Regions from separate parts of the Homo sapiens genome. Here region 1 is linked to region 2. The links come from fine-mapping of genetic effects on gene expression. A gene starts in region 2. The other region holds a variant in brackets. All regions are shown on one strand. Distances are between the middles of the regions. Region 1 overlaps VAC14 (VAC14 component of PIKFYVE complex). Region 2 holds the start of MTSS2 (MTSS I-BAR domain containing 2).

Region 1 (4,000 bases), 61 kb after region 2:
GTGAATGGGGCCTCTGGAGGAAGGAAACTGGAATCTGAGGTTCGGAGAGTCAGCTTCCCCACGATCCCTCTCTCGGGTCCCTTGAACAGGGCTCTGAGGGTCCCCAGGAGTCCCAGGACTCAGGAAGCAGGGCGTTATCTGCACAGTGTGCACTTCAAGGCCCGCAGGCTGCGCAAGGCTCCCAAAGTGCCCTCCAGACCATGTTCTATTGTGTGCGGTAGCCACGGCCCCACCCACCATTGGGCCACAGAACAGCTGCTTCTGCAGAGGTGACACCAGGCCACTGCAGACCCTAAAGCGTCCTCCACATTTGGCGTGCTACTCTGGTCTCCAAGGTAAAGGACTTCCTAATGTCCAGACATGTCAGGTGGTCCTCGGTGGCTCTAAAGTGTCCCTGCACAGATGTGGGTGGGGTGAGGCCCCAGCCTGACCACCTGCCTGCTGAGTTCTTCCGAGACAGAGGCAGAGTGGGGCGTGGGACCAGTGCTGAGTGTGAGCGCAGGTCAGCACTGTGTCACAATGTCCCCAGGGCTGCTCTACAGCCCCCGTATCCTTAGAAGCTGCCTCTCCTCGCACAGCACCCATCTTTGCCTGGCACCAAGAGCTGGCAGGGCGGCAAAGTCCAGCCTACCACTCTGCTGCAATGGGCAATAGGGAGAGGGGCCACGGACCTGCCCTGTTGGGAGGGGCTTCAGTGTGTGTGTGTGTGTGTGTGTGTGTGTGTGTGTGTGCGCGTGTGCGCGCGTGTGCCTGTGTGCATGCACCTGCCCCAGGGGCTGCTGAGGCTTCCTGGCCACCTTCTGCTGGCTGTGTTTATCCTGCAGGGAACTCCTCACACTGCAGGTGGTCGCCTGCTCTTTCTGCCCCTCACTCCTCTCTTGCTCTGGGCTAGGGACTATGCCTGTCCCCCCAAAAGGTGTATCTCCAGGACTGTCCCTGCGCCCAGCAGATGCCCAACAAACATCAGTTGACTGGGTGGTTGCCTGTGCCTCTTCCTGGGCTACTCTGAGCCCAGGCCAAGAATAACGACGGCAACCGGGGCTTCAGCCCTGGACCAGGGAAAGTGGGACAGAGCCTGATGGGCAGGGCCATGTGGGCCAGGACCGGCCAGGTGGCTGGAATATGGGAATACAAGATAAGGTTAGCACTGTAGGGCTCCTACTGAGGGATTAAAATGTTGTGGAATTAGATGGGGGTAATGGTTGCAAAAAGCTTGTGAGTATATTAAAAGCCAGTGAATTCTATGCTTCAAAAGGGCAAATTTTATCTAGAAAACAAACAAAAAAGATAAGGCCTACCCCCTCAAAAGCCATTCCTGTCAATGCAAACACAGTGCCAGTGCCTCCCCCACACTGCCCAATTGTCACTTCTCCTCCTGGTTCCTCTAGGCCAGCCCTGGCCGGGAACCCCTTTGCTTGCTCACCCATTCCCGCCCCCTCAGTCTTCAAACAGTGTCACGTGTTGGCACGCAATCTCCCAGCCTCATCCAGGCAGGAGCTGGCACTCGCTCACACAGACTCACTCTCACAGACTCCCCTCCTACTGTCCAATTCTGTCCTTCCCTTCATCCCTCTCCCACTCATGGAGACTGGGATGTCTGTGGGCCCCTGGGACCCTGCTCTGTGCCAGCGGCTGCGTTGGGTTCTGGGGCTGTAAAGGTGAGTCACAGCCACCCCTGCCCGTGGCCTGGCACACAGAGTGGAGAGCTGATGAATCCACGTGGCTGAGACACATGGCTGCCACACAGCCCAGTCATATGGCAGGAGCAAGGGGTGCCCCTCCACCCAGGCCAGGAGCCGGGGAGCCCTGGGTGGGTCTCAGCCTAGAAGTAGGGAGGGCCGAGGCCTCTGCTTCCACTGAGGACAGAGCCTCCAGGGATTCTTTGCTTCAGCCACAGAAGAAAGACACAGGGCGGAGGGCAGGATGGGGAAGTGGCACAGCAATGAATGACGCCGCGGTCCTGCCCGATTCAGCCCCTGCACACCTGCCACGGCAGGATGTACAAAGGCCATGCACACCAATGCTTGCTGGACTGTCCAAGCACGGCCAGGGAGGGGACTTGAGACCAGGAAATGGAGGTGGGGGGAGGATGGGGGAATGACTCATCCAAAATTAAACAGTGAGGCAAGAGTCAAGCCAACAGCTCCTCAAACAGTTACCCAGAGAGCTGCCATAGGTATACTCCCACTCCTAGGCAGTTACCAAGAGAACTGCAAACGTCTGTGCACATCAAACTTATATATAAATGCTCACAGCGGCATTTTTCCTAATAGCTACAAAATGGAAATAACCCAAAGGCCCTGCAGTGGAGACAAGGAGAAATGGAACGTGGCACATCCACACCAGGGAATATTATTTGGTAATAAAAAGAAATGAAGTACCTGCTACACGTGGATGAACCTTGAAAACACCTGCCGAGAAGCCAGCCACAAAGTCCACATCCTGTATGATGACTCCATTAACAGGCAAATCC[A/G]CAGAGACAGAGGGTGGATTTGTGGTCGCCAGGGGCGTGGGGAGGGAGGCATGGGGAGTGACTCCTAACGGGTGCAGGGTACATACAGGGCTTCTTTCTGGGGTCATGAAAATGTTCTGGAATTAGTACTGATGGTTGTATAATCTTGCGAAAAATACTAAAAGTTACTCTATGGTATACTTTTAAAGTATACAATAGAGTCGTTTTTATGAATTTTATGGTATGTGAATTGTACAAAAAAAGGGCGGGGGGGGCAAAACCCTAAATCAGCAACCTAATTCCTAACCCATTTGCTCTTGCTCTGCCCACAGCCCGAGGTGGTGGGGTCTCACCCACTCCCTGGTGTCTCTCGCCTGATCCAGGGGAGAGGAGGAGCACGGTGAGGAGATCTGTGTCTCTTTACATCACTTTGCCCCCTCGCCCCCATGCTGCCCATCCCACCCAGGTCTGTCTGCACAGGGGGACAGAGGCACACACCTCTGGGCGGCCAACACTGGTGGCCACGTGCAGCAGGGGAGGAAAGTGAGGAGAAAGTGTGATCCAGCGGGGCGGCTGGGGCCAGGCCAGCACTCGGCAAGATCCCTGTGCCATGGGGACAAACTGATTCATGCTGGGTATCCGGCAGGTACCTACTTCCCTGTCAGAACAGAGGCCTGGAAAAAGCCACCGAGAGGCCTGGCCTGTGCAAGGTTGTCTCCACCCTTCGAGTGGCTCCAGGGCCAGAGGAGCAGGCTGTCCTCGCTCCCGGCCACAATGAATGCCCTCACTTGTCACCAGTCTCACCTCACAGGATACACACAAGGGAACTGAGACTTGGACAGTCACCTGCTCAAGGTAACAGCGAGTCCACCTCAAACCCAGCTCTGGTCCCCAAACCTGAGCCTGCTGATAACACTACACAGGGTGCTGTGGTCAGACAGTCCTGACATCCAATCCTGACCCTGGACCAGTTAACTTCAACCACACAATGCTCCCTCTCCAGACAGCTGCTGAGCAGCTGCTGTGGGCTAGTCCTGTGCTGGGTATAAGAGACACAAGGCCAGACAGGTCAGGCTCTGCCTTCAGTGAGGTCATGGACTCCCGGAGGAGTCAGGTGGTGAGCATTTACTGATAATACAGGGCGGGTGCCAGGGACCCAGTGATGATGCCTGGGGGGGAGCCAGGAGGCTCTGGAAGTAGTTGAGCATGAGTTGGCCAAGGGAGTAAGAAGGGAGAGAATGGCATTCAAAGTATTCTCTTACCTAGCATAAGCCATTCATGGACGCAGAACCACGTGGCACATTCCAGGAAACTAGGCTTTGGGGCCAGCTCCAGAGTGGGGAATGGGGCCAGAGGTGAGGGTATGGCCAGAAATCAGGCCAAAGTGGTAGGCAGGGCCAGATCTTCAAGAGCTCATGACACAAGGCCAGGTGCGGTGGCTCACGCCTGTAATCCCAGCACTTTGGGAGACCGAGGCAGGCAGATCACCTGACGTCAGGAATTCAAGACCAGCCTGGCCAACATGGTGAAACCCCCTCTCTCCTAAAA
Region 2 (4,468 bases):
AGGTAGGGGCGAATCTGTCCTTGGCATCATCCCAGGTGAAGCCTCTCCTGTTTTGCCTCCACATGTCAGCAAATCATGCCCGATGTCTGGCTTGAACCTCTTGCTATGATCTGGGCCCACTTCCTTCTGTCTCATCCCAAAGTTCCTTGCAAATTGGCTGGAGAGGGAGAGAGACTGTCCTAGTCCACTTCCACGAGCAAAATCTGCTGCTCTCTGCAGTGGTTGCTATGAGGCTGCCAGTGGTGGTGGGTGGTGGGGTGCGGGAAGGCCCATCCGGAGCCAGCTCTGGGATCGGCCAGGGGAGGGTGGTCTGTGTTGCCCAGTCCCTTAACAGGATCCTGGGGCCAGGGCTGTGATGTCCACAGGACAGGTGGGGACTGCTGGGGGCCAGCGGAGGGGCCCAGATGTACAGTTGCAAGAGATGGGGGTCCCAGGGGGAGTGCACCATGAGGGGCAGGGGGTGGGGGGCATCTACAAGCCGCTAACTGGGTAGTCCCAGGCCAGGCTGGCTTCAGGCCTCTTCCGGGGGCAGAGATCTGGCAGCTGTCCCTGGGGCTGTTGTCCTGGCAGCACCGGGAGCCTCGAACTCCAACCTGCCAGCAACCCCCACCCCTCACGGGGCCTGTCCTAGCAGCACTGTACTGGGTGGTGTCACCCCCATCCCTGGCCTGGTGGGATTCTGTGTTGTGCACTTGGAGAATCTGCGCTGGGCTGTGGGGGTGGGGGCCCTTGGGAGATCCTGTGGGGTGCCTCGTTCTTTCCCCTTCTCCCAGCCCCCAAATCCTGCCCCTTCATCCTAGGCTAAGGAAAGGGGGCACGGCAGGAGGGCAGGAATACTGGTTCCTGGCCCCCACCCTATCACTGGAGCTGGGCCCTCTCTGCCTAGTCAGCGTAGGGCAGCCCTGCCAAACCCTGGCCTCATTTGGGGAGAGGAACCCACTAATTTTCCCAGGAGGAAAAATGGGGGCTGAGGTCAGGGGAAGGGTCCAATAGTCTCCTTAGTGACCTTGAGCCATTTCCAGGCCTCAGTTTCCCCACCTGGTGGGGTGAGGAATGAATGGGTGGTTGGATCCAGCCTGACCTTAAGCAATCCTGGGAGACAAGGAGGGCTCGGAGCTGAGAGCCCAGGGTGGTAATGGGGTAGGAAAAGCGCTTCCTTGGGGTTGCTCCACCGACCCCAACCTTCATCCCGCCTCCTCCCAAGGTGATGATCAAGGCCTATCCTTGGGATGCAGGGACATTCAGCCTGGAGACCTTGGAGTCCTGGAGCTTCCTGGGGCTGTGGGGGTGGGGCGGGGCTGGGGGACGCAGTCTCACGGTCGGGTGCAGAGGCCTAGGTCGGCGGGGAAGGAGTTAACGGTTCTCCGCTTTATTATTTTTTCCTGCTTTGGCGGTGACAGCATTGTCTGGGCTCCGGGGCCGTGGGGGAACATGGTGGTGGAAGGGGGCGGAGGCCGGTAAGACCCCGGACTCGTTAAAGGGCCCTAGAGTCGGTCCTGGATCCAAACCCCATTCATGGTTTGGCGGTCTGGGGCGCAGGGAGCCTGCGTGTGCACAGGCTCGGGTCAGGACCCCACGGGGCCACCGCGGGCACCGCACGGACACCCCGACACACGAGCACCCACACCCCCAGACGGGCACCCGGAGACACGGGCGCCCAGCAGACGCAGGCAGGACGCGCTCAGACAAGGACACACAGACACCGCGGCGCGCGGCCACACGAGGCTCGGCCACCCGCCGCCACGCGTCCCCGGGGGGTCCCGCACCCGTCGCCGCGCGCCCGGCCCCGCCGCGCCCCGGTTACCTTCATGTCGTTGACTATGGCCTGGAAGAGCCCGCCCAGGGCGCCGCACTCCTTCTCCGCCGTCTCCATGCTCTGGCTGGGCCGGGCCGCGGCGGCGGCTAGGCGCACGGAGCGCGGGGAGCAGCGCAAGGGAGGGGGCCAGGCCGCGCGGGCGCTCGCTCCGAGGCCGGGCCGGGCCTCCCGCCTCCAGGCTGCGCTCAGCGGCCGGCCGCGCCGCGCTCCGGGGTCGCGGGCCTCCGGCGGGCGGCGCGGGCCATGTCGCAGCGGGGCTGGCGGGCGGCGCGGGGGGCGCGGCGCGGGCAGCTCGCGGCGCAGCCTCGGCGCGGGGACTGACGGCGGCGGTAATCCGAGCCGCCGAGGATCGGGCGTCACGTGGGCGCGGCGGAGGGGGGACCGCGAGGAGGGAGGGAAGGAGGGCGGGCCGCGCGGGAGGGGGCTGTGGGAACGGCCGCGCGGGCGCAGGCCCATTCACGGCCAGAAACCAGGGCTTTGAAATCCGAGCCCGGGCGCTGCCAGACTGGTCCGGCGAGCGGGGCCGACGGGCGCGGGCGCCACCGAGGGTCGGGGGGCGGCGCTGGGCGGGGCCCGCCCTGCCCACGCAGGAGCGGGACTGGCGGTTGGGCCTCGGCCCCCGGGCAGGGGCTCCACGATATCTTCTGGCCTTTGGTCTGGGGCGGGGGGCTTCTCGCGCTTCTAAAGACAGGCAGTGGGTACAGTGGCGGGATGGGGTCGGTGCATGGGCTGGATGGGTGGCATACACCGCACACAGCAGGGCGCGGGGTATCGTGGAGCCGCCCGCCTTGGGACGTTTCATCGCAGGCACAGACCTTCCTCAAGTTCGGACCCTTCCAAGTTCCTTGGCTCCTTCTCCAAGTGGTGCCGATGCCACCCGGATGGGGTGCCCAAGGCTGGGCATTTGGGGGGCAGTGGTAGTCTCCTGGGCCTTGAACAACCTCCTTCTTCGCGGGTGGGGGCTAATGTCGGACCTGCAGAGCAGAGCTGGAGTGTCCTTGGTCTCTGCTGCCTGAGTCCACGGTGGGTGCGATGCACACACGTGCATGGGGTAGCAATGTCAATCGCAGCCTGTCCTGGAGACTCCAGGCAGGGAAACCCACCCTGGGGGGCAGCACGATGGGGGAGCGCACTCTGGGGAAGAGCAGGCACAAGCTCCTTCTCGCCTACTCCATGGGCCGGAGGGAGCCAATTACAAGCTCATTAGGAGACCAAGCCCAGGGTTCCCAAAGCCTGGGGACAGGTGGTACCACTCCCGGTGAGGAAGGGCTTTCAGCTGCAGCAGTGGTTGGGGCACCTGCCCCTCCCTGGACTGCTCTGGGCTTTTCCTCCCCTTGCCCCGAGATCTGCAAAGTGTTCTGCAGTGTGCATTGCCCTTTCATCCAGGAACTCCTGGGGCTCAGCTCCCATGTCCCCAGTGGGGAACTCCCATTGCCCCAGGGAGTCAGGATGAGAAAGGCAGATTGGGGAAGGCAGGGTTCAGGATTCCAGGGCAGGCAGTGCATGGTGCTCTCCAGGAGGGTGCAGGTTCCAGAGGTGGGGACCTAGGCTCTAGGCCCATGGCTCCACTCAGGTGAGTGCAGGGACCAGGCCCTGGGGCAGCCAGTACTCCTTGGGGCCATCATGAAACCCGATCTCCAGGACAGAGGGTGAGGCCCCCGGACAGCTGCACGTGTCAGCTGGGAAGGAGCAGGCCGGCTCGGGTTGAGGGTTTTCTGTTATTTCTTTATTGGGGTGGGGGTGGGGTGCATCATTCAGATCTTTGTGCTGGTGCCTACGTGCATACAAGTACACACACACACACACACACACAGGCATGTGTTCACGTATGTATACATATACACACAAGGCCAGAGCTCTAGTGTGCTGGAGGAGGGGCAAGCTCTTTTTCCAAGAGGGTATTAGAAAGAGGTTGATTCCAGAGGATGAGTGGTCTCTGAGGCTATAGCCCCCCACTGGGTGGGCAGCCAGCTCTGTGAGAATGCCAGGGTGCAGCTGACAGCGCTGGAGGCCTGGGGACTGGACTCTGAGAGGAGCTTGGGCAGACACAGCAGCCTCCGGCCCCAACACTGCCCTGGGTTGGCAGGCCCAGCCCTGGTCCTGACAGGCAGGTCCTTGAGCTCCTCGGGAGGGCGTGACGACCCTTAGTGTTTCATGGGACCACTCGGTGGGCCCTCCTCCGTGCCAGGCCTGTCAGAGGACAACCCTCCGGTCCAGGTGGTCCCCACGCCCGCTCCGCTGGTGCCGCACTTCCAGGTGCTTGTTCTGGACCTTCTCAAAGTGCTGCAGCAGCTCTGCGTAGTCGATGCTAGGGGAGTCAGCTTTCTGGGACTTGGGGGCTGCCTTTAGACTGTCTCTGGGAAGAGGGAGCAGAAATGCTCAGTGTCAGGGATCAGCTCACAGGGGGGTTACTGCTGGAGGGCAGTGGGGTCAGAGGCAGAGCCACAGGCTGGTGGGCTCGGCCTGTGGGCGTCTGTCTCAGGCCTGGCAACTCTTCCGTCATGGCGGGCCCCAGAGCTGGGAAGCCCCTGAGCATCCCCCTCTTCCGCAGTTGGTGGGAACAGCTAACACTGCTGCTTGGCTATTGCCCTCGGCCTGTGGGCTGGCGATGGCGCCCAGAGCAGGCATCGCATTGGGAAGCATTTCCTGTTT

The links. PIP is the estimated chance that this variant, and not a neighbour inherited with it, causes the effect.
Region 1: its variant is fine-mapped to the expression of MTSS2 in whole blood (TOPMed, PIP above 0.99). The same link has a PIP of 0.9 or more in T cells.

What each region holds. Positions count from the first base shown.
Region 1 is chr16:70,744,789-70,748,788 of GRCh38, forward strand. All of the region lies in intron 12 of VAC14 (VAC14 component of PIKFYVE complex), which reads right to left. Among named protein-coding and RNA genes, the nearest start is that of VAC14-AS1, 8.3 kb to the right of the region's middle. RefSeq lists enhancers at 1,279-1,779, 1,780-2,280, 2,525-3,159. The variant A/G (reference allele first, on the strand shown) is at 2,474.
Region 2 is chr16:70,683,919-70,688,386 of GRCh38, forward strand. MTSS2 (MTSS I-BAR domain containing 2) reads right to left here and starts at 2,135. Exons shown (of 15, transcript NM_138383.3): 1 at 1,805-2,135. The coding sequence starts at 1,873. It overlaps VAC14 (VAC14 component of PIKFYVE complex), which reads right to left. Exons shown (of 19, transcript NM_018052.5): 19 at 3,521-4,172. The coding sequence ends at 4,010. RefSeq lists an enhancer at 3,663-4,169.